Regions from separate parts of the Homo sapiens genome. Here region 2 is linked to region 1. Evidence: fine-mapped expression QTL. A gene starts in region 1. The other region holds a variant in brackets. All regions are shown on one strand. Distances are from middle to middle.

Region 1 (16,336 bases):
AATTTCAACTACTCTTGTCATGTTCATCTCATGCTCATTTCTGCCCTCGCATTGCTCATTCTTTTATTCGCCCTGTCCTACTTTCCAACTCATCTGACTCCCACCTACACATGATTCAAGTCCCACTTTTCCCATGACTCCATCCCAGAATCCTCCTGGCCACACTGATATCCACCTCCATGCCCTGTCATAAAATGACTTTAACTAGTAAGGATTGTTCTATGATTAAAATCTTCAATTATTTTGCTATACTAGAAAGCAGTCTGTGCCTGAACAAATTTTATACATTAGAGCAATGGATAAAAGACTCAGACGTATTTAATCTGTAAACTATTCTTATGAATTTAAATGCTAGTGGCCAGGTACCATGGCTCACGCCTGTAATCCCAGCCAAGGTGGCTGGATCACTTGGGGTCAGGAGTTTGAGACCAGCCTGGCCAACATAGTGAAACCCTGTCTCTACTCAAAATACAAAAATTAGCTGGGCGTGGTGGCACACGCCAGTAATCTCCACTACTTGAGAGGCTGAGGCACAAGAATCGTTTGAACCCAGGAGGCGGAGTTTGCAGTGAGCTGAGATCGTGCCACTGCTCTCCAGCCTGGGCAACAGAGTGAGACTCTGTCTCAAAATAAATTAAATAAATAAATAAATAAATAAATGCTAGCGATCTCTAGGTCAGTTAACTGGGAGGAAGCTATCTGTAGTTGTTTTATCCTTACGGGGAAACTGGAAAGTTGCCTTCTTATTGGAAAGGAAGATAAAGAGAGACTACAATCACAGATACTTTAGGTACTGTCTCGTTTTTGGCCTATATAGACAGGAGATGAAATTAAATGAGAAAGAAAAACAGGCAACACTTCTTAATAGGGAGTGGAATTAGCTCCCAAGTCATCACAAGCCAAGAAGTCACTTGAGGCATTTTGATACCCACATTGGTTTAAAGTTCTCAGGAGGGAACTTTCAACTTTGGACCCTACATTTTAAGGAGATGAATAAATCACAAAGGAACAGTCTAATCTAAGTCCATTAATAAGATTATGAACTGGGGCAAACTGACAAAAGATTAGAGGGAAAGGTGTCAAGTTATACATAACTAGTTGCTTTCTTTAAAAGTCTGCTATACAGATTAAAAAAAAACTCTTCCTTTAGATATAATATACTGTTTCAAGTCAACTGTTTTAATAAAGAATTTGTTTTGCTCAAAGAAAAAAAGAAGGAAGGACTTGCTGGTATCTCCATCTCCAGAAAACTAAATCTTGGCCTCTGCCTTCTGGTAGAGTATAGGACCAAGTAGGTACAGCCATCTACCACCAGCTTTCTTTAACCATTGGAGTAGACAACCTGCATTTCCTCTGGAATGAAGAACTAAAAATCACAATCTATTAGGTAAGAGGATACATGTCAAAATAAACTATATAACAGAGAGGGAAAAAATGTGTTGCTTAGAAAAAGAAATGCCAGCAATCACTTCTGCAATACTGAAAGCCTCAGAATTTACCTCAGGGCAGATGTCTCTTTTGTATGGAGCCTTTGATTAGGGAGAGATGGGCCTAGGACTTTTGATGGTATGGAAGTTAAAGCAAAACTAAGCTAAATTTCTCTGAATAATGGGGAAACAGGGATGATCTCTGCCAGCTAGGGAGAATGTTGGGGACCTTGGATCAGCAAAAAGAGAGGCAGTGGAGGTGGATGAGAAGCGAGGGCCTGTACCAATGACAAAATCTATCAGCCCTGATAGATTTGTCCAGAGGCAAGGCCAAAAGTTTTCGCTGCCCACAGGAGCAAAGAAATACATGGGCTTGTGGGGAAAACTCATAACAAAGCTGTAAAAGAGAGAGAGGAGGAAGAAAGTACAATAAAAGGCCGGGTGCGGTGGCTCACGCCTGTAATCTCAGCACTTGGGGAGGCCAAGGCGGACGGATCACGAGGTCAGGAGATCGAGACCATCCTGGCCAACATGGTGAAACCCCGTCTCTACTAAAACTAGAAAAATTAGCTGGGCGTGGTGGCGCATGCCTGTAATCCTAGCTATTCAGGAGGCTGAGGCAGGAGAATCGCTTGAACCAGAGAGTCGGAGGTTGCAGTGAGCCGAGATCGTGCCACTGCATTCCAGCGTGGCAACAGAGTGAGACTCCGTCTAAAAAAAGAAAGAAAGAAAGAAGAAAGAAAATGCAATAAAAAATTAAATTAGCTTTAAGGACTATAATTCTTTATGAGATTTCTGTTTAGTTTGTGGGCATGTCAAATCATGTAATTTTCCCGTTAACAAGAAAAGCATGAGCTCCCTCTAGTGGCTAATCTAACAGTTTTTTTAAACAATAGGCCAAACATCGCAGCTCCCACCTGTAATCCCAACATTTTGAGAGGCTGAGGCGGGAGGATCACTTGAGCCCAGAAGTTTGAGACCAGCCCAGGCAACATAGCCAGACCCACCCACCCGGTCCCTCATTTCTACAAAAAAATTTAAAAATTAACCAGGCATGGTGGTGCACACCTATAGTCCCAGCCACTTGGGAGACTGAAGCAGGAGGATAGTTTGAACCCAGGAGGCTGAGGTTACAGTAAGCCATGATTGTGCCACTGAACTCCAGCCTGAGTGACACAGCAAGACCCTGTCTCAAATAATAATAATAATAAAACAATATATTTTAATCAGAAAAGGATGAAGACATGACTGGCTTTTCCGAACACAGTCAATATCATTGGTTTCTAATGAGAAAGGTAATAACAAGGATTCACACGTTAGTCACTTACTGATTTTCAGGTAAATTTTATCTGCGTTTGTCCAAGATATTTTAAGTTCCTGCTTTAATAAATCACACAGTTGAAGAATTGGAAGTCATTAGAGATTATCCATGCATTCATTCATTCATTCAACAAATATTAACTGATTACCTATTATATGCATGCATTGCTCCAAGTGTACAGGATAGACAATGAACAAAACAGTCTTCATTAAGCTCATATTCTAGTGCATAAAGACAGGCAATAAACAACTAAACTAGTAAGTATACGATATATCAGAGACGGATAAGGGCTTTGGAGAAAATGAAGCAGGGGAAGGGAGTGTGGGGTGAGCAGAGGGCTGTGAGGTCAGGGAAGACATCTCTAATAAGTTGTCATTTGAGCAGAGACTTGACAATGAGAGAGCAAGGCTTGTGGCACTTGAATCAGAGGAAACAGCAAGTGTGAAGGCCTGAAGTTTGACACATTTAAGGCAGCTAGGGGATCATTGCAGGGTTGAAGGGGCGCAGAGTAAGCAAAGGGGAGAGTGATGGGAGAGGAGCCCAGTGAGATAGTGTGGGGTCAGATCATATAAGGTTTTGGGCTGCTATAACAAATTACCACAGACTCGATGACTTCAACAACAAACATTTATTCCTCACAGTTCTGGAGGCTGGCAAGTCCAAAATCTAGGTGCCAGCAGATCTAGTATCTTAGTATTTGATGAGGCACTCTTCTTGATTTGCAAACAGATGTTTTCTCGTATCCTCACATGGCAGAGATCAGAGAGAAAGGAGGTAAGCTTTCTTGTGTCTCTTCTTACAAGGATGATAATCTCATCATGAGGACTCCACCTTCATGAACTAATTACCTCCTAATACCATCCCATTGGGGGTTAGGGTTTCAACATATGAATTTGGCGGGACACAATCATGCAGTTCATAACAGCCTTCTATGCCACTGAAGAACTTCAGCTTTTACTCTGAGTGAGAAGGGAAGTTGGAAGAATAACCTGATCCATTTAAGGCTCTCTCTGACCACTACATGGAAATACAGTGTAAGAGGGTAAGGGAAAATGCAGAGAGACCAGTTAAAGGTCAGTTACCAAGTATGTTTCCAGGAGAAGGGAGAGACCAACTGTGTCCAATGCTGCAGGTTAAGTTAAATAATGAAAATTGATGTGATTGGTGATCTTGATAAAAAACAGTTTCAGTGGAATGGTAGAAGCAAAAGATTGATCGGCAGTTTCTTAAAAGTTACACGTAAACCTATCATATTGATCCAGTTATTCTATTCCTAGACATTTACCAAGATATTTATGTCCACATAGAGACTTGATGGCACGACATGGTGGCTCAAGCCTGTAATCCCAACACTTTGAGAGGCCAAGGCGGGAGGATCACTTGAGGCCAGGAATTCAAGACCAGCCTGGACAACATAGTGAGACCCTGTCTTTTATATATATATATATATTTTTTTTTTTTTTTTTTTTTTTTTTTGAGACGGAGTCTTGCTCTGTCACCAAGGTTGGAGTGCAGTGGTGCGATCTTGGCTCACTGCAACCTCCACCTCCTGGGTTCAACCGACTCCCCTGCCTCAGCCTCCTGAGTAGCTGGGACTACAGGTGCGCGCCACCACGCCCGGCTAATTTTTTGTATTTTTTAGCAGAGACGGAGTTTCACCATGTTGGCCAGGATGATCTCGATCTCCTGACCTCGTGACCCGCCGCCTCGGCCTCCCAAAGTGCTGGGATTACAGGCGTGAGCCACTGAGCCCAGCCAAAAATATATTTTTTTAAATTAGCTGGGCATGGTGGCACACCACCTGTAGTCCCAGCTACTAGGGAGGCTGAGTTTAGGAGTTCAAGGCTGCAGTGAGCTATGATCATGCCACTGCACTCCACCCTTGGTGACAGAGCAACACCCTATCTCTTAAAAAGAGACTTGAACATGAATGTTCACAGCCAAAACTGGAAACAACCCAAATATCCAGCAACTAGTGAATGGATAAACAAATTGCAATATGTCTATATGATGGAATACTACTCAGGAATAAAAGGAGTGAACTATTGATACATACAACACCATGGATACATTTCAAAATAATTATGCTAAGTGAAAGAACCTTGACCTCAAATAATAGGTACTGTATGATTCCATTTGTATACAATTCCAGCAAACACAGACATATCTTTGGTGACAGAAAGCAGATGTGTGTTTGTCTGGGGATGATGAGGCACAAGGAACGTTTGGGGATGATGGATATAGTCATTATTTTGATTGTGATGATGGTTTTATGGGTACATACATATGTCAAAACTTATCAAATTGTTCACTGGGTAGTTTGTTGTACATCAATTATATCTTAATAAAGCTATAAAATAAATACATTATAATTTTAAAAATAAAGGATGGAATTTCACATGAAAGCAGAGATGTTGGCCTTAGATACCCAAATTATTTAACATCTGAAAAATATATATTCAGTTAGCCACTCTTAGTCTTAGAGTTCTCATTTATCAAAAACAAATCCTGCCTTCCATGCTGCTGGAGGTAAAATGAACTGACCTATATGCCCTCCTTAGAATAGCAATTAAAGCCTTTCATATCAGGACAATATAACCTTCTCAGCTCTTTCCCTGCTGCACCCTGCCCTCCCAGCCTTTAGTCACACCAAACTTATGGCTATTGTTTCAATACACCAGACATTTTCAAGTACCTGTACGCAGTCTTTTTTCTTTTTTTTTTTTTTTTGAGACAGGGTCTCACTGTATTGCCCAGGCTGGTGTGCAGTGCTTCACTGCAACCTTAACCTCCTGGGCTCAAGCAACCCTTTTGCTTCAGCCTCCTCAGTAGCTTGGACCACAAGCCTGTGCCACCATGCCTGGCTGATTTTTCAACTTTTTGGTAGAGATGGGGTCTCACTATATTGCCCAGGCTAGTCTTGAACTACCCAGCTCAAGTGGTTCTCCCACCTTGGCTTCCCAAAGTTCTGGGATTACAGGCTTGAGCTACCACACTTAGCCAGATTTTGTTTTGAGAATACTTTTTTTGCCCTCACTAAAACAACCTAGCCAAAAAATTTTAATTTAAATCTATGCTTTTTAAAAAAGATTTATTGCTGACATTTATTTCTTAACTTCACAGGTAACTGATTTGATAATTAATAAATAAGTCATTCTCCAAAAGCAGCTGAATAACATGGTTTGTGAAGCATTCTTTATTTTGTGTGCAGGTGTGATTACAGAGTTGTTTTGTTTGGGGCTCATTTTATCATCGTCACAGATGAGGTTGGCGTTCTATAAAATTGCTTTGGTTAAGCAGAACCCTATTGTCTGGCTATTTTGCCAGACCAGCAACCAGCTACCAGCTGTTAGGCTATGTTTTTTCTCATGTAGTTACAATCAAGACTGTCTAGATTGAAATCTCATCTTCCTCACAGGCTATGAATTGAGGCAGTCAACTTCCCTGAGCTTGTTTCCTCTTCTGTAAAATGTAGATAACAATAGCACCTATTTTAGAGGGTTGTTCTGAGGATTAAATAAGTTAATACAAGTGCTTGGAATAGTGCCTGGCACAGGGTGGGTAATTAGGTTTTTTTTTCTCTCTCTCTAATTCACAACACCCTACCTCATTCATTCAACCCTTATTGATTTTTTACACCTTGAGATTGTAGAAATGTATTCTCCTCTTCGAATTACCAGGATCTGAATTAAAAACTCTGACTGAGGAGTGCTTACAAAGCTTATAACGATGGTTGAATTTTAACGATTAATTGCATTTATTAATGGTCAACATGATCACATTTTATCCAGCCCTCTTTTCCCTTGTATGGGTCACGCTAAGTTGAAACAACCAAAACCAAAATAAAAACATATCTAAAATCATACACATTAACTTATATGACCCTCGTTGCTCTTTTTTCCTCCTAAGAGGGAATAGTGTTATCTAGCGCCACGGTTCTTTTCAGTTTTGTTTTGTTTTGTTTTGTTTTTTATACGGAGTTTCGCTCTTGTTGCCCAGGCTGGAGTGAAATGGTGCAATCTCGGCTTACCGCAATCTCCGCCTCCTGTGTTCAAGCGATTCTCCTGCCTCAGCCTCCCTAGTAGCTGGGATTACAGGCATGCGCCACCACGCTCGACTAATTTTGTAATTTTAGTAGAGACGGGGTTTCTCCATGTGGATCAGGCCGGTCTCGAACTCCCGACCTCAGGCCCGCCTTGGCCTCCCAAAGTGCTGGGATTACAGGCGTCAGTTTCTAATTTTAGACTGCGGGATTAAAAATAAACGATTAATCCTCATTTATGTGCTTCATATGGGTGTCGGAATGACGATACATGCTAACACACGTGAAAAAATTTACATTTCAGATCCTTTCAGAAACGCAAGGCAATATTAAGTAGTAGCATATGCCCAAGGGCGAGGGGCGGGTCGGCGGTGGCTGGCTCTCCAATACACCACAGAGTATTTTGGCAACGAGAGTAATTTTGACACTCTGAGGCTTCCGTAGCATAGCTCGCTTTAGGAACCGCTAAGGTGTCGCCTGCCTAGAGTCCCATGCGCTATTTCCGGTCATACCCGGAAACACGAGTCCAAGCTGCAGCTGGCAGGGATTGCGGGGTGCCGGCCGTCTGAGTTTTTTTAAAACTGCTCGCCGCGAAGTCTGTCTGCAGCCAAAATGTCCAACAGAAACAACAACAAGCTTCCCAGCAACCTGCCGCAGTTACAGAATCTAATCAAGCGAGACCCGCCGGCCTACATCGAGGAGGTGGGAGTGCGGCGCGGCAGACGCTAGAGGCCGGATAGTGGATGGTTGAGACGCCGGTGCGGGAAAGCATGGAGTGGGGCTGGGATCCAGGCTCGCCGCCTATTCTTCTGTTAGGTTCAGGGGTCCCTCCAGAGGAGAGAAGGGGTTGGGGACGGGACATGCCTTAGGGTTCGTTCCCCACCTCTTGAAAATCTGTTGCCCCTTTGGATTTTCTACCTGCCCTGCTGCCGCTGAAACACCTTTAAAACCTCATTTTGTTTTAAGATATTTTTCTTCGTCCGCACGGAAGTGGAGAGAGAAATGGGCCGCACCCAACCACCAACTTCCACGCGGATTTCTCAGCCTCTTTTCAGAAATCCCAAACTTGAATTAGTCGGTAACCTTTGATGAATCGTATGTTAGAATGCTTTCGATTGACGTCCGTTTCTGAGAGCAGGCTGTGTACCCTGGACTGTGCCAGGAAAGGGGGGGGGGGGGTTTCTCAAGCACAACGGACAGACTCGGGAGCTTAGTATATTTAGTTAAGCCAGGATTCAAACTTACCGGAGACTGGCATGACTCGGATGTCAGAATTTGCTTCGGGAAAAGATTAGGTTGAAAAATTAGGCCCTCATTGTGATGGGCTTTGTGTACTGACCTCATGTAAGTTGTGAACATTAGGGGTGTTTGAACCAAGTACCGACAAAACGAAAGTGGTTTTTGATATATTAATCTGACAGGTGCTTCCTTCAGACACTCATTTATCAGACGGGCATTAAACAGGTATCTCTGCTAGGCATTTGCTGCAATTACATGTTTGTGCTTCTACCAGATTGTGATTTGTTCAGTGGCTAACACAATTACTTATTTTTTCATTGCCCTTCTCACTTCCCTCCTCCCCTAAATTTTCACATATATGTATTTTATGAGTGCTTTTTAACACATGGCAATCTCAGTGGCTTAGGTCACCAGTAGAGAAAGCCTCTCCAAGGATCAAGGTAGTGGAAATAAAGAGTAGGAAACAAGTACAAGAAGTTAAGTAACATAGGCAAGGCTTTGAGATGCTTAAAGCATTGTATAGCCATTCGCAAAGAAAGTGGTAAGTTGAGAGTCTATATAATTCCGTTAGATAACTCCTGCTGCTGACTGTTGTTAACCAGTTGTGTAACCGAAGCAGGTTAATCGCTGAGCCTATGTGGGTATTTTAATATGTAAGAAGGGGGTAATAACTACTTCTTTAATTCACTTAAGTATATATGCAAAATCACATATAACTACTGTGTGTTGTTATTCTAGGTAGGCGTTGGGGTACAGTAATGAATAAGACAGATAAGAAAGCATTCTTCTCTTGGACTTACATTCAAGTGAGTGTAGACTTATTATGGTAGAGATTATGAAGAAAATAAAACTGGATGGGAATAGGTTAGAATTGGAGGCTTCTGATTTAGACCCCGTAAACAGGGAAGGTGGCTCTGCAATGATGATATTGAGCCAGGCAGGTAAACATCATTTTAGGTACAAGGAATAGAAAGTGCAGAAGCTACTGGTGGAAAAAAAGCAGAGAAGAAGCCAGTGTAGCTAAAGTGTAGTCAGCATAGAAGAGGGCAGTGGAAGATGATGTAGGAAATGCAGGCAGGGGTCAGCTTATTCAGAGCCTCTTAGGCCCTGTTAACGAGTTTAGATTTCACTCTGAGTGCCTCGGGGAGTGATTGAAGAGTTTTAAGCAGGAGAGTGACATGATCTGACATATTTTTTTTAAGAATTTACTCTGGAAGTTACATGTGGAATGGCTTGTAGAGGAGCAACACTGGAAGCAGGGTAACTAATATAATGGATCTCAGAATAACCAAGCAAGGGATTGTGGTGTCATTGGAATTATGGGCAAAGATTCGTGCTGTTCTACGTGGAGGTAGAGCTAGTAGAGCCTTGGGATTTCTGGTGGAGTGGATGTGGGGGATAAGGAAAAAAGAAGGAATGAAGGATCACCCAGGTTTTTTATTTATATGTCTAGGTAGATGATAGTGCCATTTCCTGAAGTTCGTTCATTTGACAAATACTGTTGATTACCTGCTATATGTAAGGCACAATGCTGGGCCCTGGGACTACATAATATTGAGCTGTACCGATAAAAATTCTATGCTCATTAAATGACATTCTAGTAGGGGGTGATATACAGTAACAAATAATATAGTATGTTAAATAATGAAAAGTGCTGTGAAAAAAAGACAATAGGAAAGTACTTATGTATGTTGGGGGTGAGATGGGTATTGCAGTTTTAAATTGGATAGTTAGGGAAGGTCTTCTTGAGATAGTAATCTTTGAGTGAAAACCTGAAGGACATGAGGGAGAGCTGTGCATATGTTTAGGAAGAATGATCTAGGCAGAAGGAACAGAAGGTATAAAGACCTTGGGGTAGGTATGCCTGGTAGATTTCAGGAACATAAAGGCCAGTGTGGCTCCAAATAGGGAATGAGGAAAGGGGGTGAATTTGGGATTCTACCTCCCAATGAGATGGAAGCCTTTACAGGGTTTTGAGCAGAAGAATACATGAACCACCCTATATGAGAACAAGATCACCGTTACTTGAGGATAGACTGTATGTAGGAGGGCAAAGATAGAAGCAGAGACACCACATAAGAAGCTATTGGAATTATCCACAGCAAGAGATGATGCTGGGTTGAGTGGTGCTAGGATGGTAACAGGAAGTAGTAAGAAGGGTGATTAGATCCTGGATTGGGTAGGTAGAGAAAGCCCTGGGGATTCCCAACATTTAAAGGCCAGTGAGTTTCTAAGTAACTGGAAAAAGGGACTGAGAAAGCAGCCAGTGAAGTTTCGAGGAAAACCAGGAGGTGTTCTGGAAGCCAAGTATAGAAGATGTTCCCAAGGGAGGGAGAACCCAAGCACATCAGATGCTGATGAGTCAAATAAGATGAATACCAAAAGTTGACCACCATTAAATTTAGCAACATGGGGTCGGGCACGGTGGCTCACACCTGTAGTCTCAGCACTTTGGGAGGCCAAGGTGGGTGAATCACCTGAGGTCAGGAGTTCAAGACCAGCCTGACCAACATGGTGAAACCCCATCTCTACTAAAAATACAAAAATTAGCCAGGTGTGGTGGCGGGCACCTGTGATCCCAGCTACTCCAGAGGCTGAGGCAGGAGAATTGCTTGAACCTGGGAGGCGGAGGTTGCAGTGAGCCGAGATCGCGCCACTGCACCCTAGCCTGGGCAACAAGATGAAACTCCATCTCAGAAAAACAAAACAAAAAAAAATTAGCGACATGGATGTCATTGGCTACCCTGATTCATTGAGCAGTTTGGGAAGAGGAATGGGTGCAAAAATCTGATTACAGAAGGTTTAAAAACAATTGGAGTATGATTCTATGTATATGAAATGTATATGAATAGAATATGTCCAGAATAGGTGCATCTATATGGATGGAAAGTAGACTAGTGTTTGCCAGAGCTGAGGGTAAGGGGTATAGGAAATAACTGCTAATGGATTGGGGTTTCTTTTGGTGATGATGAAAAACCTATGGTTGTACAACTTGGTGAATATACTGAAGAACCGAATTGTATACTTTCAAAGGGTAAATTTTATGGTATATGAATTATATCTCAATTTAAAGGATTTTTTGAAAAAGGAGGGCAATTAGGTAACATATGGACAACTCTTTAAAGGACTTTTTCTGAAGAGAGAAATAGAGTAGAAGGTACAGAGTAAAGTGGAATCAAGAAAGGATTTTTTTTTTTAAGACACAGTCTTGCTCTGTTGCCCAGGCCAGAGTTCAGTGGTGTGATCACGGCTCACTGCAGCCTCAACCTCCTGGGCTCAAGCAATCCTCCCGCCTCAGCCTCCAGGGTAGCTGGGACCACAAGTGTGCAACCACCATTCCCAGTTGATTTTTTTGTAGAGATGAGGTCTTGCTAGTTGCCCAGGCTGGTCTCCAAGCTGAAACCATGCAATCTTTCTGCCTCAGCCTCCCAAAGTGCTGGAATTACAGGCATGAGCCACCATGCCCAACCAAGAAAGGTGTTTTTTGTTTTGTTTTGTTTTGTTTTGTTTTTAAGATGGCAGAAAGAACAGCATGTCTATATACTGATGGGGCAGAACCTGTTGAGGCAGGAAATGGGAGGTGGGGACTAGTGAAGCAAAGACCTTGATTGAGTGACATTACAGGGTTTAGAATCTAATGCATAACTGGAGGGGCTAGCCTTAGATGGTGGCCTGATAGCTTTTGTAGTAGGAGAGAAGGTAAAGTATATGGGCACAGGAGAAGATAGGTGGTTAAATGGAAATTATCCTCAGATTGCTTATATTCCTAGTGAAATTGGAGATAAGATCATCTGCTGAGAATGGGGACAGGGAAAAAGTGAGGTTGGAGGACAGATTGCAAAGTATGAAATGGTTGTCCAGAAAAGTGGGAAAGTGAAGGGACTAGAGAAATGTAATGAGATTGCTGGAGTACACGCAGGGCTTAATTGAGGTTTGTAGTTATGAATTTGTGCCTATAGTCCCAGCTAATTGGGAGGCTAGGGCAGTTGGATTGATTAAACCCAGGAGTTTGATGCTGCAGTGAGCCATGATAGCACCACTGCACGGAAACCTGGGCGACAGAGCAGGACCTTGGCTCTAAAAAAAATTAAAATGAAAAAAATAAAATGACACCAATTAGCCGATTTTCTCCAACCATGTTCAGCTCTGGGAGTATAGCTGTAGAGAAGGAAAGCACAGGGTGGGCATTTTACCAAATGGGTATAATGATAAGAGAAATGGGCAAGTGAGTTGAAGTATACGCATGGAGGTGATTATAATGATTGATCATGGAATTGAAGCTGGATGAGAAGGGAAGTTGGCGTGGGGGTTACTTAGGTGCAGTGGAAAGGTAGTAGGCTTAGTGGACTGTGGATTCTGATGAGATTGAAGGATCGTTGGAGTTTGGAAAATAAGAGATGTGGTTGGAGAGGAATATACCTCTAGTTGAGATTATGGAGTTGTAATATAGTTATTGGTAATGACAACATTTAGGGTGTGACCATGGAAGTGAGTGCTAAGATACAGTAAGTTCAAGATGATTAGAGGAGGAGAAGTCAGGGTAATGAGGGGCCAGAGTATTGGGAAGACCCTCCATGTGGATACGAAATCACCAAGTATTATAACAGGAATTGAGATAGAGGGTGAGAAGACAGTGAGCAAAGAGCTGAAATGTTGAAGGAATGTGAGGATAACTCTAGTCTTTAGATGACTACAAGGAGGAATAGTGGGTCTTGTGGCATAAGATTCAAAGCTGGGGGTGAGGACAGTTGAGGAGAAAGGATATTAATCTGGAGGGATATGAGTGCTCTGGAAGTAGCATTGATGAAAAAGGAGGATGCCTACTGACTCATCCATGCTGGGAGAAAGAAACGACGTAGCAGTGTGTCAGGAGAAAACCACTGTTCCCATAGAGCATCTGAATGACTGGGCTGTTTGATTTAGATGCCTTGGCCCCACCCCAAGAGTTTCAGGATTGTAGTGGAATGAGGATTACAGTGAGGAGGATGAGGGATGGCCAGGGAATACTGGGCTCTTGTGGTGACTGATGCACATAAAGGGTGTAATGAGATTAGTCCTGATCATCTCAAGGCGGGTAAATAGTGTTAGCTGGGCCATGGGTGGGGTGGGGGAAGAAATGGGGTGAGGATTTTGTCAGTAGCATAAAGAGTTGTGTAGCCCTCTCCTCACTCCTATTCAGTGGAGGTGTCGGGTCAAGAGAGAAGTGGTTCTATCTGAAGCATGTAGGGACTTGACTTCTGTTCTTAGAAAAAGCCTGGCAGTTTTGTTGAGGAAATCAAGTTGTGTTTTTTGACCATGCTAAGTTTATGATGTCTGTTTAGACACCTAAACAGAGATGTCAGACAGGTGACTGGATATGTGAATTGGGAGTTCACTGGACCAGGTAGGGATGATGAGAAAGAGTGTGTGTGTGTGTGTGTGTGTGTGTGTGTGTGTTTGTGTGTGTGTGTGTATGTCACATAATTTAAAGACATAGACTATGTATGGGTGGAGAGTAGTTAGCTGTAAGGCATGGAACTGTGGAATTGAGGCCTGGTGAATTCCAACATTTGATTATCAGGTGGCTGTTACAACTAAACATAAGTAAGTGAGTTGATGTGCATAAGGAGCTTAGTACATAACAAGTGCTGAATAAGTGGAAGCTATTATTATTTCCATGTGTCTACTGCTATTGGCTGTTAACACATCCTGCCTAGAGCTCTAGCATAAAGTTACTGACACTTAAAAGAAGAGGTAAAAAAAGAGGGGAGCCAGGTGCTATGGCTCACACCTGTAATCCCAGCACTTTGGGAGGCCAGGGTGAGAGGATCACTTGAGGCCAGGCGTTTGAGTCCAGCCTGGGCAACATAAAGAGATCCCGTCTCTACAAAAAATAAAAATGAAAAATCAGCTGGGTATGGTGGTGAACGTCTGTGGTCCCAGCTACTTAGGAGGCTGAGGCAGGAGGACCTCTTGAGCCCAGGAGTTTGAGGTGGCAGTGAGCTATGATTGTGCCACTGCAGTCCAGCTTGGGTGACAGAGGGAGACCTAGTCTTTTTTTTTTTTTTTTAAGGTACCAAAACAGATACATAGACCAATAGAATAGAACAGAGGCTTCAGAAATAACGCCACACATCTACAACCACCTGATCTTTGACAAACCTGACAAAAACAAGCAATGGGGAAAGGATTCCCTATTTAATAAAACGTGTTGGGAAAACTGGCTAGCCATATGCAGAAAGCTGAAACTGGACCCCTTCCTTACACCTTGTACAAAAATTAAATCAAGATGGATTAAAGACTTAAACAAGAGTCCTAAAACCATAAAAACCCTAGAAGAAAACCTAGGCAATACCATTCAGGACATAGGCCCGGGCAAGACTTAATGACTAAAACACCAAAAGCAATGGCAACAAAAGCCAAAATTGACAAATGGGATCTAATTAAACTAAAGAGCTTCTGCACAGCAAAAGAAACTATTATCAGAGTGAATAAGCAACCTACAGAATGGGAGAAAATTTTTGCAATCTATCCATCTGACAAAGGGCTAATAGCCAGAATCTACAAGGAACTTAAACAAATTTACAAGAAAAAAAAAACCCCATCAAAAAGTGGGCAAAGGATATGAACAGACATTTCTCAAAAGAAGACATTTATGCGGCCAACAAACAGTGAAAAAAAGCTCATCAGCACTGGTCATTAGAGAAATGCAAATCAAAACTACAATGAGATACCATCTCACGCCAGTTAGAATGGCAATCATTAAAAAGTCAGGAAACAGCAGATGCTGGAGAGGATGTGGAGAAATAGGAACTCTTTTACACTGTTGGTGGGAGTGTAAATTAGTTTAACCATTGTGGAAGACAGTGTGGCAATTCCTCAAGGATCTAGAACCAGAAATACCATTTGACCCAGCCATCCCATTACTGGGTATATACCCAAAGGATTATAAATCATTCTACTGTAAATACACATGTACACATATGTTTATTGCAGCACTATTCACAATAGCAAAGACTTTGAACCAACCCAAATGCCCATCAATGATAGACTAGATAAAGAAAATATGGCACATATATACCATGGAATACTATGCAGCCATAAAAAAGGATGAGTTCATGTCCTTGCAGGGACATGGATGAAGCTGGAAACCATCATTTTCAGAAAACTATCACAAGGACAGAAAACCAAACACCGCATGTTCTCACTCATAAGTGGGAGTTGAACAGTGAGGACACATGGATACAGGAAGGGGAACATCACACATTGGGGCCTGTTGGGGTGGGGGGCTAGGGGAGGGATAGCATTAGGAGAAATACCTAATGTGGATGACAGGTTGATGGGTGCAGCAAACCACCATGGCACATGTATACCTGTGTAACAAACCTGCACATTCTGCACATGTATACCAGAACTTAAAAGTATAATTTTTAAAAAGGGGTGGCAGTGGGGGGGTGGGATTTTGACTGGAGAGCTTCATGTACTTGAGATATAATTTATATTTCTGCCCTGTTATTTTTCTGCTGATTTGAGTGCTCTGCATACATGGATATGGTAGTAGGGGTCATTTATTTTTATTTTTATTTTGTGAGACAGGGCCTCCGTGTTGCCTAGGCTGGAGTGCAGTGGCATGATCATAGCTCACTGCAGTCTCAACCTCCCTGGGCTCAAGTGATCATCCCATTTCAGCCTGTTGAGTAGCTGGAATTACAGGTGCACGCCACCACACCCTGCTAATTTTTGTATTTTTTGTAGAGACAAGGTCTCCCTGTGTTACCCAGTTTGGTCTCGAACTCCTGGGCTCAAGTGATCCTCCCACTTTGGCCTCCCAAAGTGCTGGGATTACAAGTGTGAGCCACTACACCCAGCAGTCGGGATCATTTAGATAGTAACTGGCAGAACAGGGCTACAATCTGAATTTGGGATTCATGCTTCTCTGTTCTTACACCATGCTGCCTAAACTTGTAGTGATAATTCCAAGGAAAAGTTCTTTAGATTATCTGTGATGTGCTCAGGTCTTTAAAAAGCGCACTTTGAAGAATGCAGATAAGGCAAAAGGAGTGTTTTTATATACTTTTGCATTATCTTTTTCTCCATGTGATCGTCAACAGTTTCTACTAAGAATTTCTCTACTGAATGTCTGTACTGAGAAAGTCATGTAATACAATGTGACAAACTTAAATTTTATTTTTCTGCAGTTTCTACAGCAGTATAATCACTACAAATCCAATGTGGAGATTTTCAAATTGCAACCAAATAAACCCAGCAAAGAACTAGCAGAGCTGGTGATGTTTATGGCACAGGTAAGAATATAATTGCTTAAATAAA
Region 2 (16,336 bases), 35 kb after region 1:
CATGGATAGGAAGAATCAATATCATGAAAATGGCCATACTGCCCAAGGTAATTTATAGATTCAATGCCATCCCCATCAAGCTACCAGTGGCTTTCTTCACAGAATTGGAAAAAACTACTTTAAAGTTCATATGGAACCAAAAAAGAGCCCACATTGCCAAGACAATCCTAAGCCAAAAGAACAAAGCTGGAGTCACGCTACCTGACTTCAAACTATACTACAAGGCTACAGTAACCAAAACAGCATGGTACTGGTACCAAAACAGAGATAGAGACCAATGGAACAGAACAGAGCCCTCAGATATAATACCACACATCTATAACCATCTGTTCTTTGACAAACCTGACAAAAACAAGAAATAGGGAAAGGATTCCCTATTTAATAAATGGTGCTGGGAAAACTGGCTAGCATATGCAGAAAGCTGAAACTGGATCCCTTCCTGACACCTTATACAAAAATTAATTCAAGATGGATTAAAGACTTAAATGTTAGGCCTAAAACCATAAAAACCCTAGAAGAAAACCTAGGCAATACCATTCAGGACATAGGCATGGACAAGGACTTCATATCTAAAACACCAAAAGCAATGGCAACAAAAGCCAAAATTGACAGGTGGGATCTAGTTAAACTAAAGAGCTTCTGCACAGCAAAAGAAACTACCATCAGAGTGAACAGGCAACCTACAGAATGGGAGAAAATTTTTGCAATCTACCCATCTGACAAAGGGCTAATATCCAGAATCTACAAAGACCTTAAACAAATTTACAAGAAAAAAACCCCATCAACAAGTGGGCAAAGGATATGAACAGATGCTTCTCAAAAGAAGACATTTATGTAGCCTAAAGGCACATTAAAAAATGCTTATCATCACTGGCCATCAGAGAAATGCAAATCAAAACCACAATGAGATACCATCTCATACCAGTTAGAATGGCGATCATTAAAAAGTCAGGAAACGATAGGTGCTGGAGAGGATGTGGAGAAATAGGAACACTTTTACACTGTTGATGGGACTGTAAACTAGTTCAACCATTGTGGAAGACAGTGTGGCTATTCCTCAAGGATCTAGAACTAGAAATACCATTTGACCCAGCCATCCCATAACTGGGTATATACCCGAAGGATTATAAATCATGCTGATGTAAAGACACATGCACACATATGTTTATTGCAGCACTATTCACAATAGCAAAGACTTGGAACCAACCCAAATGTCCAACAATGATAGACTGGATTAAGAAAATGTGGCACATATACGCTATGGAATACTATGCAGCCATAAAAAAGGATGAGTTCATGTCCTTTGCAGGGACATGGATGAAGCTGGAAACCATCATTCTTAGCAAACTATCGCAAGGACAGAAAACCAAACACCACATGTTCTCACTCACAGGTGGGAATTGAACAATGAGAACACTTGGACACAGGATGGGGAACATCACACACCGGGGCCTGTCGTGGGGTGGCGGTAGTGGGGAGGGATAGCATTAGGAGATATACCCAATGTTAATGACGAGTTAATGGGTGCAGCACACCAACATGACACATGTATACATATGTAACAAACCTGCACGTTGTGCACATGTACCCTATAACTTAAAGCATAATAATAATAAAACAGTGAAAAAAAAGTCTCTCCTCTTTAAACCATTACAGTGGCAATTAAGTTTCGACATGAGTTTTAGAGGGAACATTCAAACCATAGAACCCTGGAACGAGTGATTTATTATTGAAGCACTCTTTTTTCCTAGGGCAATTTAGTAGCCCTTTTGGTTGATTAAAAAACACTTAATGAGTATAATCACTGGTTTAAGGATTGTCTAATCTGTCCTGATAAGTAAGTGATATGCTGAACAGCAGCTTTTTATTTTCCTTGGAAAATATTGCAGGATAATAGCCCTAAAGACTTTAACCTTTCTTATTTGAGCTAGTCCCATCTCTTCTTAGAGTTGGCAAGTAAATGCTTCTCTGATTTAGTGTGCCGGACACTGTTCCTTATTCCACCAGTAGAGGAAATGGCAGTAACTGGAATAAAAGCCCTCTAAGGCTGCCTACCTGACATTCTCTAACATGCTGCAGTTTTGGAGACCTAAGCTATATAAAACTCAACGTGTTTTCCTTTTGAGTTAATCTTTTTAGGAAGTCTTCCTGTGTTGAATCATGAAAAAATTGCTATTCGGGCTCTTTTAAACTTTGTTTTTCTTTTTCTAGAATCAATGCTATAAAGGAGATAACAGCTCGATGTCCTCTGGCCATGACTGAAGAACTTCTCCAAGACCTGGCTCAGTATAAAACACACAAGGATAAGAGTAAGCTGCATGTTACTCTCTACACACCAAAGAGTACAGTGTGACTCCTTTTTACCTCATTGTACTCTATGGGCCAGAATTTCTAATTAAAAGTATTATTTTACAGATGTAATGATGTCTGCTAGAACTTTGATTCACCTCTTCCGAACACTGAATCCTCAGATGCTGCAGAAGAAATTCCGGGTAGGTAAAGCACACTTATGTTGGTCTAAAGGTTATGGTCTCACAAACTGAGAGAAATTTCCTACAATTAGGATTTTAGTACTTATGATGCTTCTGTTATGATTACATGGTTATGATGCACACGGTTGTATTCTTTAAGCTTGGAATCAAATACCATGGCCCTGAATATTTTATAGTTGGCACATATTCATTGATGATGACTGTGTCTTGAAGACCTATCAGGCTGTTTCAGCTTGAAAGCTTTTAATGTTATTAACAGATCGGAATCTCAAAGATCAGTCAGTAGCTGATGCCAGTTTTGTGAACAGGCTATTGCACAGCCAGATACTACCTCTTTCAAGTTGGAAGGGAGGAGGGATGCATGTATGTAACAGAAAGAGAGATGACGTTTTTCAAGACTTAAAAAATTAGAGCAGTTACTCTCTAATAACTACCAGTGTCTTGATCTAGATCAAAACACAACAAGAAAATAGTGGACAGATTGCTGGCTGGGGATTTATTTTGACCTGAGACATAAGCAAACTGTTGCTGTCATTTGGTTACCAGCATTTTTTATAGTGCTCCCTTTTAAATTCATAATTTTGTTAGCTGGGTGTGGTGGTGCGTGCCTGTAGTCCCAACTACTAGGGAGGCTGAGGTGGGTGGATCCCTTGAGCCCAGGAGGCGGAGGTTGTAGTGAGCTGAGATTGTACCACTGCACTCCAGTCTGGGCAACAGAGCAAGACCCTGTCTTCAAATAAATAAATAAAATAAATTCATAATTTCAGAGACTACCTTTCATGATTAAGGTTTTATGATCTAAGCAACTTATTACAAACAATTTCTTTTCCTTTAGGGTAAGCCTACAGAGGCCTCCATAGAAGCAAGAGTACAAGAATATGGAGAATTAGATGCTAAAGATTACATTCCAGGAGCAGAAGTTCTGGAAGTTGAGAAAGAAGAGAATGCTGAAAATGATGAAGGTTGATTTTTATTTCACCCTTATTTTGGGCAAAACACTCCTGCAGTATCTGTGCAGACCTTTAAATTGTATACTATTTGAACATTCATTCAGCAGATATTTATTGAGCAATGACTATGTGCCACGCACTGTTAGAAGTATGGGGGATCAATTGAGCATGGTTCCTCCTCTTGCGGAACTTATGTTCTAGCATAGGAAATGCCTTTTCATGACCTTCGGGGTGGCTGCCGCTCATCCAAGGGCATGCTGTTTGGTGCTTGAGAAAGACAATGATCTTGTGTTTGTTGCCTAGAAAAAATTACGGGGGTTAGCCCTTAGAGGAATCCCCCAAAATTCTCCTTGTTGAAGGAGAATGCATGTTGAATTTGTGGGCAAATACTCGAGGAACTCCATTCTAATTTCCAGAGTCGTGTATTCTTCCTGTCCATTCATTCATTATTCAGCAAATCTTTTTTTTTTTTCCTCACGTTGGAGTCTCGCTCTTGCCCAGGCTGGAGTGCAGTGGTACGATCTCAGCTCACTGCAACCTCCATCTCCCAGGTTCAAGCGATCCTCCTGCCTCGGCATCTTGAGTAGCTGGGATTACAGGCGTGTGCAGCCATGCCTGACTTATTTTTTTATTTTTAGTAGAGATAGGGTTTCACCATGTTGGCCAGGCTGGTCTTGAACCCCTAACCTCAGGTGATCCTCCCATTTTGGCCTCCCAAAGTGCTGGGATTACAGGCGTGAGCCAGTGCACCCAGCCTATTTGATCAAAGCCCTCTTAAGCATTTGTTGTGAGCCAGCCACTGCCAATGCAAAGATGAATGGTATTATTTCTGCTCTAGAGGGCTTCCAAAGGGCTGAAGAATGAAGTGTTAACAGGATTTATGATTGGAGTGGGTGGGGGCATAAGGGCAGGAGAGCAGTCAGGTCCACCTCGGAAGTTTTTTTTTAGGTTTTTTTTTTTTTTTTTTTTTTTTTTTTTTTGAGACAGAGTCTTGCTGTGTCGCCCAGGCTGGAGTACAGTGGCGTGATCTCGGCTCACGGCAAGCTCCACCTCCTGGGTTCACGCCATTCTCCTACCTCAGCCTCCCGAATAGCTGGGACTACAGGCGCCCGCCACCACACCTAGCTAATTTTTTGTATTTTTTAGTAGAGACGGGGTTTCACCGTTTTAGCTAGGATGGTCTCAATCTCCTGACCTTGTGATCCGCCCGCCTCAGCCTCCCAAAGGGCTGGGATTACAGGCGTGAGCCACTGCACCCGGCCTTTTTTTTTTTTTTTTTAAAGGGCTTTGGAGAGATGGTGACTGATGAGCCAGGTATTTGGCAAGGAATGCTAGAATAGCAGAGACTTTCCAGGCAAAGTGTGAGCAAAGTCTTGAAGGATTTAGGGAACTAACTATTAGAATGTAGGATACAAGATGGAACATAGAAAGACAGGAGGCTTGAGATAGAGTTTGGTGACCTTTTCATACTTGGTTATGTATATGCCAGACAAAAGAGCTGGCACGTTCTCTTAAAGATCATAGGGAGTCATGGAAAGATTGCAGTGTCTGTGATTTAGAAAATTTAAACTGTGGTGGCTCCATTAAGAAGCCTGATACCTTTTTATTGAGGTGTCTTCAGGATTCTTTAACATCCCAAATATTCTACCTCAGTTGTCTGAATGACTAACTAGATTCTCATACGTGGGTAACACGCATAGGACAAATTAGATGCCTGCTGCGTGGCCAGGATAAATGTACAAGTGCAGTTTTGATGGACACAGTTGGTTTAGTTGAAAGAACATGACCCTAAAGGTAGACATGATTTTCATGATTTCAGTGTAGGATGCCTTTTTAGCGGTGTGGCTTGGGGCACATTACTAAACTCTGAGCATCTGTTCCTTTTCTTTGGAGTTATGAGGGTTAGAGAGAGTGATTGTAAGGTTTTGACTCATGGTAGATACTTGATCAGTGCCTATTTCCTATTCCTTAGATTAACTAAAGGCACATTGTTTATTTAACAATAAATATTGCTCAGTTCTTGGTTAATAATGTATCTGTTCAAGGTTCATTACTTTTCTGTTGCTTGCTTCATCTCAACTTTATGTTGAATGTGCAACATAAAATGGCAGTAGTGGGTTTGCTTTTTTCACGCAGATGGATGGGAAAGTACCAGTCTCAGTGAGGAGGAGGATGCTGATGGTGAATGGATTGATGTGCAACACTCTTCCGATGAAGAACAGCAAGAAATCGTAAGTCTGAAAATTTCATCTTATAACCTGGTGTTTATTAAGACGTAATTTATTCTGGGCCTTGTTGGGAGGCTACAATTTAAATGGCTGAGCTCTCACTTGAGCTGGTAGCCATTTAAGCCCTTGTGTGGTTTCAAGTCCAAGAAGCTGAACAGCATGCCCATGGAGGAGCGGAAGGCCAAAGCTGCAGCCATCAGCACTAGCCGAGTTTTAACTCAGGAAGACTTCCAGAAAATCCGCATGGCCCAAATGAGAAAAGAACTTGATGCTGCCCCCGGGAAATCCCAGAAGAGGAAATACATTGAAATAGACAGTGATGAAGAGCCCAGGTAAAATGGCACATCCACTTTAGTACTTCAGTCAGCTCATGTGGTAATGAAAGCATCAGGAAACAGAATTCCATTCTTGTTTCATGTGTTATTTTTCCCTCACCCCAGGGGTGAATTACTTTCTCTTCGGGACATTGAACGCCTTCATAAAAAGCCAAAGTCTGACAAAGAGACAAGACTAGCAACTGCAATGGTGAGTGAGCATATCATTCCTAGTTTTTTAAACAGAAAGCAAATAAAATGAAACATAAGCCAGAACTTGTATAGCCACAGAATGGCAATTTTTAAAAATGTTTTAAATAAAGGTATAATTAACACAGAAATTAAAATGCACAGATATTAGATGTTCAGTTAGATGAGGGGTTTTGTTTGGGTTTGCTTTTGTTAGTATGTTTGTTTGTTTGTTTTTTGCGACAGTCTCTCTCTGTCACCCAGGCTGTAGTGCAGTGGCACAATCTCAGCTCACTGCAACCTCTGCCTCCTAGGTTCAAGCGATTCTCCTGCTTCAGCCTCCTAAGTAGCTGGGGTAACAGGTGTCTGCTACCACGCCCAGCTAATTTTTGTATTTTTAGTAGAGTCAAGGTTTCGCCATGTTGGCCAGGCTGGTCTCAAACTCCTGGCCTCATGCGATCCACCCGCCTCAGCCTCCCAAAGTGCTGGGAGTATAGGCATGAGCCATTGCGCCCAGCCAGTTAGATGAGTTTTGACAACTGTATATAGCCATGTAACCACCACTCAAAACAAGGTAGAGAGCACAGGAAGGCAGTATTACATGTCTGTATTGTCAGGAAGCCACTATATTTATCAAAGCTAAGAGAAAAGTAGGAATGTGTTTACAGTCACCAGTGAAAAGCCAGAGCCAGTTGGAGTCTGCCTGTGGCTAGTGCTGTGGCTGCTCATGTCTGTGTCCTGCCTACATTTCCAACATCATTTTCTGTATCTCCACTTGTTTGAGACACTGTCCCCTCCTAGTTCCACCTCATCCTCTGTCTTCCATGTGTCCTTTCTCCTCCACACCTTTGTGTGCACTGTCCCTTCTTCCGGAAATGCTCTGTCTTTCCCCTCCTTTCCCTTACCATGAATGCCTTCATCCTGCAAAAAAAAAAAAAACAAAAAAAAAACAGTCTACCTGTCTCCCTTTCTAGGAAGTTCCCCTGACCTCACCAGGCTAAATTATGACTTTTCTTCCACCGAGCTCCCCTTGCTCTGTTATAATACTGTATGGCCATTTCTTGGTCCCAAGGAGCAAAGACTGTGTCCTGTCCATT[C/T]TGTGCCCTTGGCACCTAGTAGAGCTTCTGACACAGAGGAGACATTAATGTTGATTAGATGACTCCTAAAGTATGTTGTTGAAGAAGAAATATCAAACTTTTTGTTCTGGTAGGCTGGAAAGACAGACCGAAAAGAATTTGTGAGGAAGAAAACCAAAACAAATCCATTTTCCAGTTCGACAAATAAAGAGAAGAAAAAACAGAAGAACTTTATGATGATGCGGTATAGCCAGAATGTCCGGTCAAAAAATAAGCGTTCCTTCCGAGAAAAACAGGTGAGTTCCACTTGAAGCTTGGGTGGCAAGAACAGCACTGTAATTCCAAGACAGCTTTACATTTGAGACGGACTTGCGCCTTCTGAAGACTGGGCATTATTGTGTGTGTCTTGGGAGCATTGTTGGAGAGCATTGTTGGAGAGTTCCCATTAATGGGAGCATTGCTGGAGAGCATGGAGAGGTGAGAAGGATTCAGGGTATGTAAATCCCAGACCTGACTTGATTGAGACTCAGCTGTGGGACCAGAGGGGAATCCATTTTCCTCCAGTATAAGTAAAGGAATGCAAGCTAGATCATCCATGAGGTTCCTTCCCATGCTAAAATTCTCTGACATTTGATCTGTGAAATATAATATCAAAATTAATTGAATAACTTTTTAGTGCCAATTTTATGCCTGGTTTTCTGAGACAGGGTCTCACTCTGCTATCCAGGCTGGAGTGCAGTGGTGCAGTCACAACTCACTGCAGCCTCATGGCTCACTGCAGCCTCGACCTCCCAGGCTCCAGTGATTATTGCGGGATCTGGCCAGCAGCCCGCAATGCAACGGGGCTCTTTCTTTGTTCCCAAGTGGAAAGGCAGGTGGAGAAATAAAAGACACACACAAGATAGTGAAAGTTGGGTCCAGGGGGGTCACCGCCTTCTGGTCCTGCGATGCTGCCAATGCACTGGATATACCACCATTTATTATTAAGTTTAGTGAGAGTGGGCGTAGGTTAGTGAGGGATTTAGGGTCGTTTGATTATGAGGTGAGATGGTCACATGGGGATGAAGTAATTCTTTAACATAACATTGGTATGCAGAAGTACAGTATACAGAGATAAGAATTTACAATATAGTGTGTGCATCAGCAATTTCTAACAGAGCCTTAAAACAGAAACACAGTCTATCCATAACCTACGTTTAGCAAGATATTAATCAGCAGTAACAGTTGCAGCAAAAACTGGTTGTAAACAATCAATAGAAACAGGACGTGAAGCTAGACAACTGGTTAGACCACAAATTCTCAGAAGGTAGTATGCCTTACTCTTGAAGAGACCTACAAGAGCCGTGGCAAGATAAGGGCGTTTATAACCCTATCTTATCCATATGGACAGGCGCCCCTCATGCATCCATTTATAGGCTCTCCACAAGGGTCACATTCCATTCCCAGAGCTATGAACATCTGCTTTTCTGGGATAGGAATCTTGGTGATGTGAAACCTCCCTGACTGCACGTCCGTTCATAGGCTCTCTGCAGGGGGAAGCACATCATGTGCTGTTGGCTCATTCTGGCAGCCCAACCTGGCATTGTTTTTACACAATCTTGCATGCAATTTTGTATTTACAATAATGAGGAGCATTTCATCTTTTATTCTGTAGCAATAGATTCAGGGGGTCTCCCTACAAGTGATCCTCCCACCTCAGCCCTCCAAGTAGCTGGGACTACAGGCGTCTGCCACCACACCCGGCTAATTTTTGTATTTTTTGTAGAGATGGGGTTTTGCCATGTTGCCCAGTCTGGTTTCAAACTGCTGGACTCAAGCAGTCTGTCCACCTCAGCCTCCCATAGCGCTAGGATTATAGGTGTGGGTACTTTTCTCTTTTTTTTTTTTTTGAGACAGAGTCTCGCTCTGTCACCCAGGCTGGAGTGCAGTGGCGCAATCTCAGCTCACTGCAAGCTCTGCCTCCCGGGTTCACGGCATTCTCCTGCCTCCACCTCCCAAGTAGCTGGGACTACAGGTGCCCGCCACCACGCCTGGCTAATTTTTTTGTATTTTTAGTAGAGACGGAGTTTCACCGTGTTAGCCAGGATGGTCTTGATCTCCTGACCTCGTGATCTGCCTGCCTCGGTCTCCCAAAGTGCTGGGATTACAGGCGTGAGCTACTACCGCGCCTGGCCCCAGGCGTGGGTACTTTTCAAAACCCAATAATTTTGTGTGGTGATATCTCAGAAACAGTTTCAGAAAAGCAATGCAAAATAAATAGTGTGTTGGCATGATCCTTCCTGTATGTGCCCTTTTGAAAGCCCTGATGTTTACAGGCTTTGGGATTACATTTTATCCATTCATGGCCTTTGAATGGTAATCCCATGCTACTTAGGCAGCTCATTTATTTCAGTTATTCATTGTGATAAAACAAGTTTATGCTTTTGTATCTTTCTCTCCTTGTGGTGTAGCAGTGTATCTAAATATCATTCTGAAGAATTGCCAGGATATCAGCTCTGGGTTAAACAGTCTCATATTGTGAATCAGTGTTCCTAAATAGCTAGCCAAGGATCAGCCTGCCAGCACTGAATGTAACGGCCAGCCCTCTAGGGCAGTGCTGTGTCTGTGGGTTCCAAGTCAGTATTCACTGAATTAAGGTACCATTTAGCTCTCCCTGTTGACTCTTTCTAGTTCTAAACTGTGTTCAACAACATCATTTAAATAATGACGGCATTTTTAATAGAAGCTGTTGAAACTGAGGTGAAAGGAAAGGTGCCACTTAGGATTTTAAGTACTCTAAATTTTGCCACATTCTCCTAAAATTATAATAGGATTGACTTAAATCCATTAGTCTGTCCTTCACTGGCCCTTAACTAACATTTCAGGGTTGAGGAAGTATTAATTACCCTGTTGGTAGGCCTTGTTTCATTATAAGGTTTCTGTGAGCTTGTTATATTTTAGTTAGGGCTCCCCCCACCCCTACTTCCTTTGTTTTTTAGCATGCCTTTTCTGGCATGAAGGGAAAGCCCAGCTTTGTTCCTTTCAAGCACCTCGAGTCATAAAATAACTCTCAAAGATTGAAGAATCTTTTTGAGAGTAAATTAAGATTTCATTGGACATATGCACTTGTTGGTTCAAGAATGTTTTTTCTTGTTCTCCAATTTTCTTGTCATTTGGAACCTGATATTAATCAGAATTTCTATGTGTGTCCCTTTGCCCTGTATTTTCTTCAAGATCTCTTCATTATAAACATAAACTTTTAAGTTCCTGATTTTCTCTGTTCTCCCCTTTAGACCAGTACTGTTCAATAGAAATATAATATGAACCACATATATCACTTAAAAATAAACAAGTAAAAAAAGAGGAAATTGTAACAATATATCTTATTTAACCCAGTATATCTAAAATAGTATTGTTTCAACATGTAGTTCAACATATAAAAATTATGAGTGAAATATTGTACATTTTTGTTTCTGAGCTAATTGAAATCAGCATGTCGTTAACACTGCAGCACATCTCAATTTGGACTAGCCACATTTCAAATGCTCAGTAGTCACATGTAGTTAGTGGCTACCCTATTGGACACAACAGTTACAGAGCATCCCCAAAACTGCCCTGTGACCCCAAGGGCCCTGTGAGAAAGGAGCATCACACTTCACACACCCCCCTACCCTTTGGTGATATTTCAGTGTCTTAAATAAAGGAATCTTACCTGGCTTGAAAGTGTACATGAGGTCTTACTGTAAATTGTTAGAATATGAAGAGGTGACTGGGATGAGACTAGAAGAGGGAAGTAAAGCATACGATAGGGAAGGAGAGGAGGATCTTGCAGTAAAGCCTGTAGAAAGATAAAAGAAGAAAAGGGGGATATACCTGTTCCTTTTCTTTAATTGGTGGCATTTGAAGGGGAAGGAACTGAAATATGTGTGAGAGTAGGCTGTGCTTTGCTACAAAGCTTAATGAGTGGAAGTAAATTCCCATAACCAACATTAGCTAACACATTTAGTTCTTAGCATGAGACTTCACTATTCCAGGGCTTTCCATTTATTAACTTGTTTAATCAGTATACAACAGTATGTGCAGTTACTGTGATTAAACCAATTTTGCAGATGAGGAAAATAAGATAGAATTAGATGAATCTGGAAAATACCTCCTTAGCCAAATTAAGTTGAAATGAACTTACAGATTTTTGTTCTGCCTTAAGTATCCCAGCTCTTCTGCTTTTCTGCAAAGACATACCAAGACCCAGGTGTGAGTTAAAGGCAAAGAGTCAACTGGAAATCATAAAATCCAAAAAGTTTGAACATTTGTATGTAGAGCCAGGTAACTTCTACCCCGAAACTGTTTTAGGTGTATCTTGTTAAAATTTAAGCTAGAATTTTAAAATAAAAATTAAATAAAAGCTAGAGATTTTTAAAAGTTTCTAGGACAAAGAATAGTACTTGGGAATTAATGGAATAGTATCCATCACAAACTTAAGATGTATACATTGGTCTTGGTTAACTTTAATTTTGGTTTATTTTTGATCATCTTTAATACTATGTTTGCTTTCTTTTGACATGTAAAACTTTATAAGGGCTTTTGTAGGTTTGCGTCAGACACTGATCCTTCAGTCTTCTTTTTCTCTAGATGTTAAATTCTTCACCTTCCAGTTCTACCCTGGGGATCTTGAAGAACCCAGCCTCTGGTTAGAGACAAACTCCAGGAGATGAAAGCCTAGACTGAGTCTCATTATGATATACAATTCACTGCTTTCATTCTTCATGTTCACTTTACATACTTCCAACACAAAATAATTAAACAAGTTAAAAATTAGAGCCTGTATTAACTAGAATAAATATTTTGCCATAAGCTACAATTGTCAGGGCTTCAATTTCTGAGTTAATATCTTCATGTTTGAGCCATTATAAAGGGTTAGTGTTAGCATATACTTAGAACATTTTCTTAGTAAGGTATCACTTTTCTTTGTTTCAGATTTTATATTGATAGAGTTATCATAAATCTACACAAGTGCTGAATGCCATTATAAAATCTTTGAGTGATCCATACATGCCATATTTAGTGGAATATATGTGATATTGGGAAAGGTGATTGATTATGAAGAAAAATCTGTTTTCCTGTTACTTTTAATTTAGACAATGTATTCCATCCACAACTCCAAAATATTAAGAGCCACATAGACCAAATAAGTATTATTTATTATCCCTGGAGACAGGGATAATAAATAGTAGTCTCTGCATTCCATAGCTGCTCCTGTTTTGAGCTTATGCCTCCATGAGTTGGGAACAGCAGTCAAGAGTTTTGCATATTTCCTAGCAGTAATATGCCCCATCCTCGATTCAGATGTGATCTGTTTTGGAATATTTTATCATTTATAGTTTTTCAGGATGGTGTATTGACTTGGTGATTCCTTTTTAGTAAACTTTCATGTAACCAAATTCGTATAATAGGGTACCCAAGAGTTATCATGTTTCAATACTTTTTTATCTTACAGTTGGCACTACGAGATGCACTTTTGAAAAAGAGAAAAAGAATGAAGTAACTTCCTGGCAAGTTTTCCATTCCTAGAAGAATGCTAAGTTTGTGTCCTTGCTCTGAAAATTGGTAAATCAAGCATGTTTGTTTACATTAAAAAGTCCAGACACACTGTATTGTGAAAACTGCTGAACATGTGGCAGCAATTTTGTGTTTTTATTTTGGAGACGGCTAATGGTAGGAATGTTAATGTAAATAGTGGTGGTAATGTAAAATCATTTCATTTATCATTCATGCAAAAAAAAGTATGTATTGAGTGCCTATTCATTGTCACTGTAGATGCAAAACGAATGAGCTGTAACCCCTTCACTCAAGGCATTGACAGCTTAGCTGTGAGGGTGGACACACATATGTGTATTTACAGTGCAGTGTAAATAGTTCTGTAGTAGAGGTTAACTCCATATTTCTGTGAGGTCACTGAGGCCTTATGGACTAACTCTGTGAGGATAGGAGTTATATATTCTTATAAGACAAAACAAAACAGGACAATGTTACAAGAGTAAGAGGTTCTTACTTGTACATAGGCTTTCCTGCTGAAAACAGGCCCCTGCTGTACAGATTTTGGGTACATAATTTAGCTCTTTTAGTCAATCCAAGAGATTTAAGTGACCCCCCCCCCCCCGTGTTTTTTTTGTTTTTGTTTTTGTTTTGAATGCCATGTAAAGGCTTTTTGGTTAAGACCTCACTTTTAAAACTGCCTTAAGTATAAATAGTACCTTTGGAATATATTTAGTTCATCATTTGAGCTGCCTTCATACTGGTTTCCTCAGCCTTCCTTCAGCCTGTAATATTTTCAGCCCACTGTTTACCTTGTCTCAATAAAAGGTTTCTAATGCCAAATACGTACCTTTGTATGTGGAGTGGTGTGTGGTGTTCTACGTTCCACAGGCGTGCTACATCCATTTCAGGGGACAGTCTGTTTGCATGCAATTTTTTGCATTTGGAAATAGTTTGGTGCCTTTTGCTTCAGCTTTCTCAGATAATGTTGTGGTAGATGTTACCTCAAGTTAGAGTAAAGGGCAATTTTCTGCACTCAGAAAGCATTTTCTTTTTTATTTATTTATTTGTTTTTTTTTTTTTTTGAAACGAAGTTCACTCTTGTTGCCAAGGCTGGAGTGCAATGGCACGATCTTGGCTCACCACAACCTCCGCCTCCCAGGTTCAAGCGATTCTCCTGCCTCAGCCTCCCAAGTAGCTGGGATTATAGGCATGCGCCACCACGCCTGGCTAATTTTGTATTTTTGTTTTAGTAGAGACGGGCTTTCTCCCGACGTGAGGTGATCCCAGAGTGCTGGGATTACAGGCATGAGCCACTGCGCCTGGCCTAGAAAGCAGTTTCTAAAACCAGTGTTCTTATTTCCTTTCCAGTTTCTTCTGTTCACTTTCTACATTCAACTTCAGTTTTATTTCAATGAGACTTAGAGACTTTCCCTAAAATGCCCCAGATTGCTGTTGGGGGATTAGTCAAGTCACCAGAGTCAAGCCCCAGCAACTACAGTGCTTTACAGGAAGTGTTCGATGCAAATTTGTATATTTTAGACCGGAAACTGCTCCTTTTTTTTTTTTTTTTCGCATTTTTGAACTGGGTGTCTCCTCCTGTGTCTGGATCCAGAAAGTGAAAAAAATTCAATTCAAAATAGCAACAAGTTTTTATAGCTTTATTGTGTGAATTGTGATGGCGCCTGGAAGTTTCATCCTTCCTCTAGATTTTCCCACTCAGATACCAAGAGACCAAAGTCCATTCTGTGTTCTGACTTCTGTTCTTCTACTGTGCCCTCACCCTCTTCTTAACTAGCCTTTCTTACATGCAAGACAGAAAGATACAGTATGTGGTTTATAAATGCATATTCTGAACTTTTATTTCTTTAATCCCATAGTATCTTATTTCTATCTGATTCCTTTTATTGTTTTCCAAATCTTCTCTTGAGAATATTTTGTTTGCTATCCATTTGAAGATGAGATTCTCAGAAGGGTGAATGCTTCATTAGAGGGTAGGTGAGCTTGCAAGGTGAATTCTACTTTGAAGAAGTCATCAGTGTCTGAACTTGAGCTATTTAGTCTCAAATTTTGTCAACATAGAGAATGAAGCCATTCAGGGATGAACTTAACTTTGTCCAGGCTCATAATGTATAAAAGTGGTATATAAATCCAGAATGCTGATATATTAGCTATATGATCTCAGCAAGTGACCATGGTTAATATAAATGTTATTTCTTCAAAGTCTAATCCTTTGAAAATTTACTCTGTATAGACTTGCATTGCAACTCCATTTCAACTAGAATGTTTACTCAGAATATTCTGTTCTTTAAACTATTTTAGATAACACATTTTAAAACCATATATAGATAATATAGTTCTACCAAGTGACAGTCTTTCATCAATTGCTTATGTTCTTTTGAAATGTACTTTATGAGATTTTTTAAAAGATCTTAAATATGAATAAAAATATAGGACAATGACTTGTAGCCTTTTCTCTTACAAGGTCAAGGCTCTAGAAAGAACCTTTCCAATATTAGCAGAGTCTTTGGTCTGCACGTGTTTACAAATGCAAATAAAAGCAGAGAACACAGCTAATTTTGTACTCCTTAAATAGCATAAGCTTATATTTGTATAGACCATTTCTTAGGTAGTAAACTTATTTCCTTCTGTAGATTCTGCTTTCATGTTTTGTCAGTCCAATCCCAGTGTGAAGATGGTTGAATAAAACTATCATTTATCCACATGATAGAGTATTATGCAGCCATTATTATAATAAGCATTTCCCATTGTAAACATTTCCAGTGTTTACAATGTCTTTTGTTCTTTTCAAAACAGGCTGTTCCTGTTCTTTTCTGCCAAGGCAGGCAGATCACCTTGTTCTTTTCCAGCCCAGGCTGGAGAGCACTGGAACAATCTCAGCTCACTGCAACCTCTGCCTCCTGGATTCAAGCAATTCTCCTGCCTCAGCCTCCTGAGTAGCTGGGACTACAGGTGCCCGCCACCACACCCAGCTGATTTTTGTATTTTTAGTAGAGACAGGGCTTCACCATGTTGGCCAAGCTGGTCTCGAACTCCTGACCTCAAGTGATCCACCCTTCTCAGCCTCCCAAAGTGCTGGGATTATAGGCGTGAGCCACTGTACCTGGCCACTATTATTTTCAAAAGCAGAGTATAAAATGATAAAGAAGCCTGGGCAACATGGTGAGACCTTGTAAAAATTAGCCAGGTGTGATGGTGCATGCTTGCCATACCAGCTACTCAGGAGGCTGAAGCAGGAGGATCGTTTGAGTGCCGGAGGTCAAGGCTGCAGTGAGTAAAGTTCAAGCCTCTGTAGTTTAGCCTGGGTGACAGAGCGAGACTCTGTCTCTAAATAAATAAAATGATCAAGTGGTTTTAAGACAATTTCTTTACACATTTAATCTCTGAAATTGAGATGTTTAAAAATGTTTGCAGCCAGACAACAGTCTTGATGTAGTTGTCATTGCCTGCACATTCACAAACCTGGTCTGCTATTTTCACTTGACATCTGCTAACATGAAGCAGGGACCAACATCAAAATTTGCAGAATGGGAATTAGTAGCCTTTATGAAAATT

Evidence for each region.
Region 2: its variant is fine-mapped to the expression of SDAD1 in whole blood (TOPMed, PIP above 0.99).

Annotation. Positions count from the first base shown.
Region 1 is chr4:75,981,908-75,998,243 of GRCh38, reverse strand. SDAD1 (SDA1 domain containing 1) reads left to right here and starts at 7,299. Exons shown (of 22, transcript NM_018115.4): 1 at 7,299-7,492; 2 at 16,207-16,311. The coding sequence starts at 7,403. SDAD1-AS1 (SDAD1 antisense RNA 1) reads right to left here. Exons shown (of 3, transcript NR_125906.1): 2 at 1,500-2,138.
Region 2 is chr4:75,947,184-75,963,519 of GRCh38, reverse strand. SDAD1 (SDA1 domain containing 1) reads left to right here. Exons shown (of 22, transcript NM_018115.4): 15 at 2,212-2,309; 16 at 2,416-2,492; 17 at 3,328-3,454; 18 at 5,579-5,673; 19 at 5,812-6,002; 20 at 6,111-6,195; 21 at 7,384-7,545; 22 at 12,723-13,605. The coding sequence ends at 12,770. Among named protein-coding and RNA genes, the nearest start is that of NAAA, 14 kb to the right of the region's middle. The variant C/T (reference allele first, on the strand shown) is at 7,271.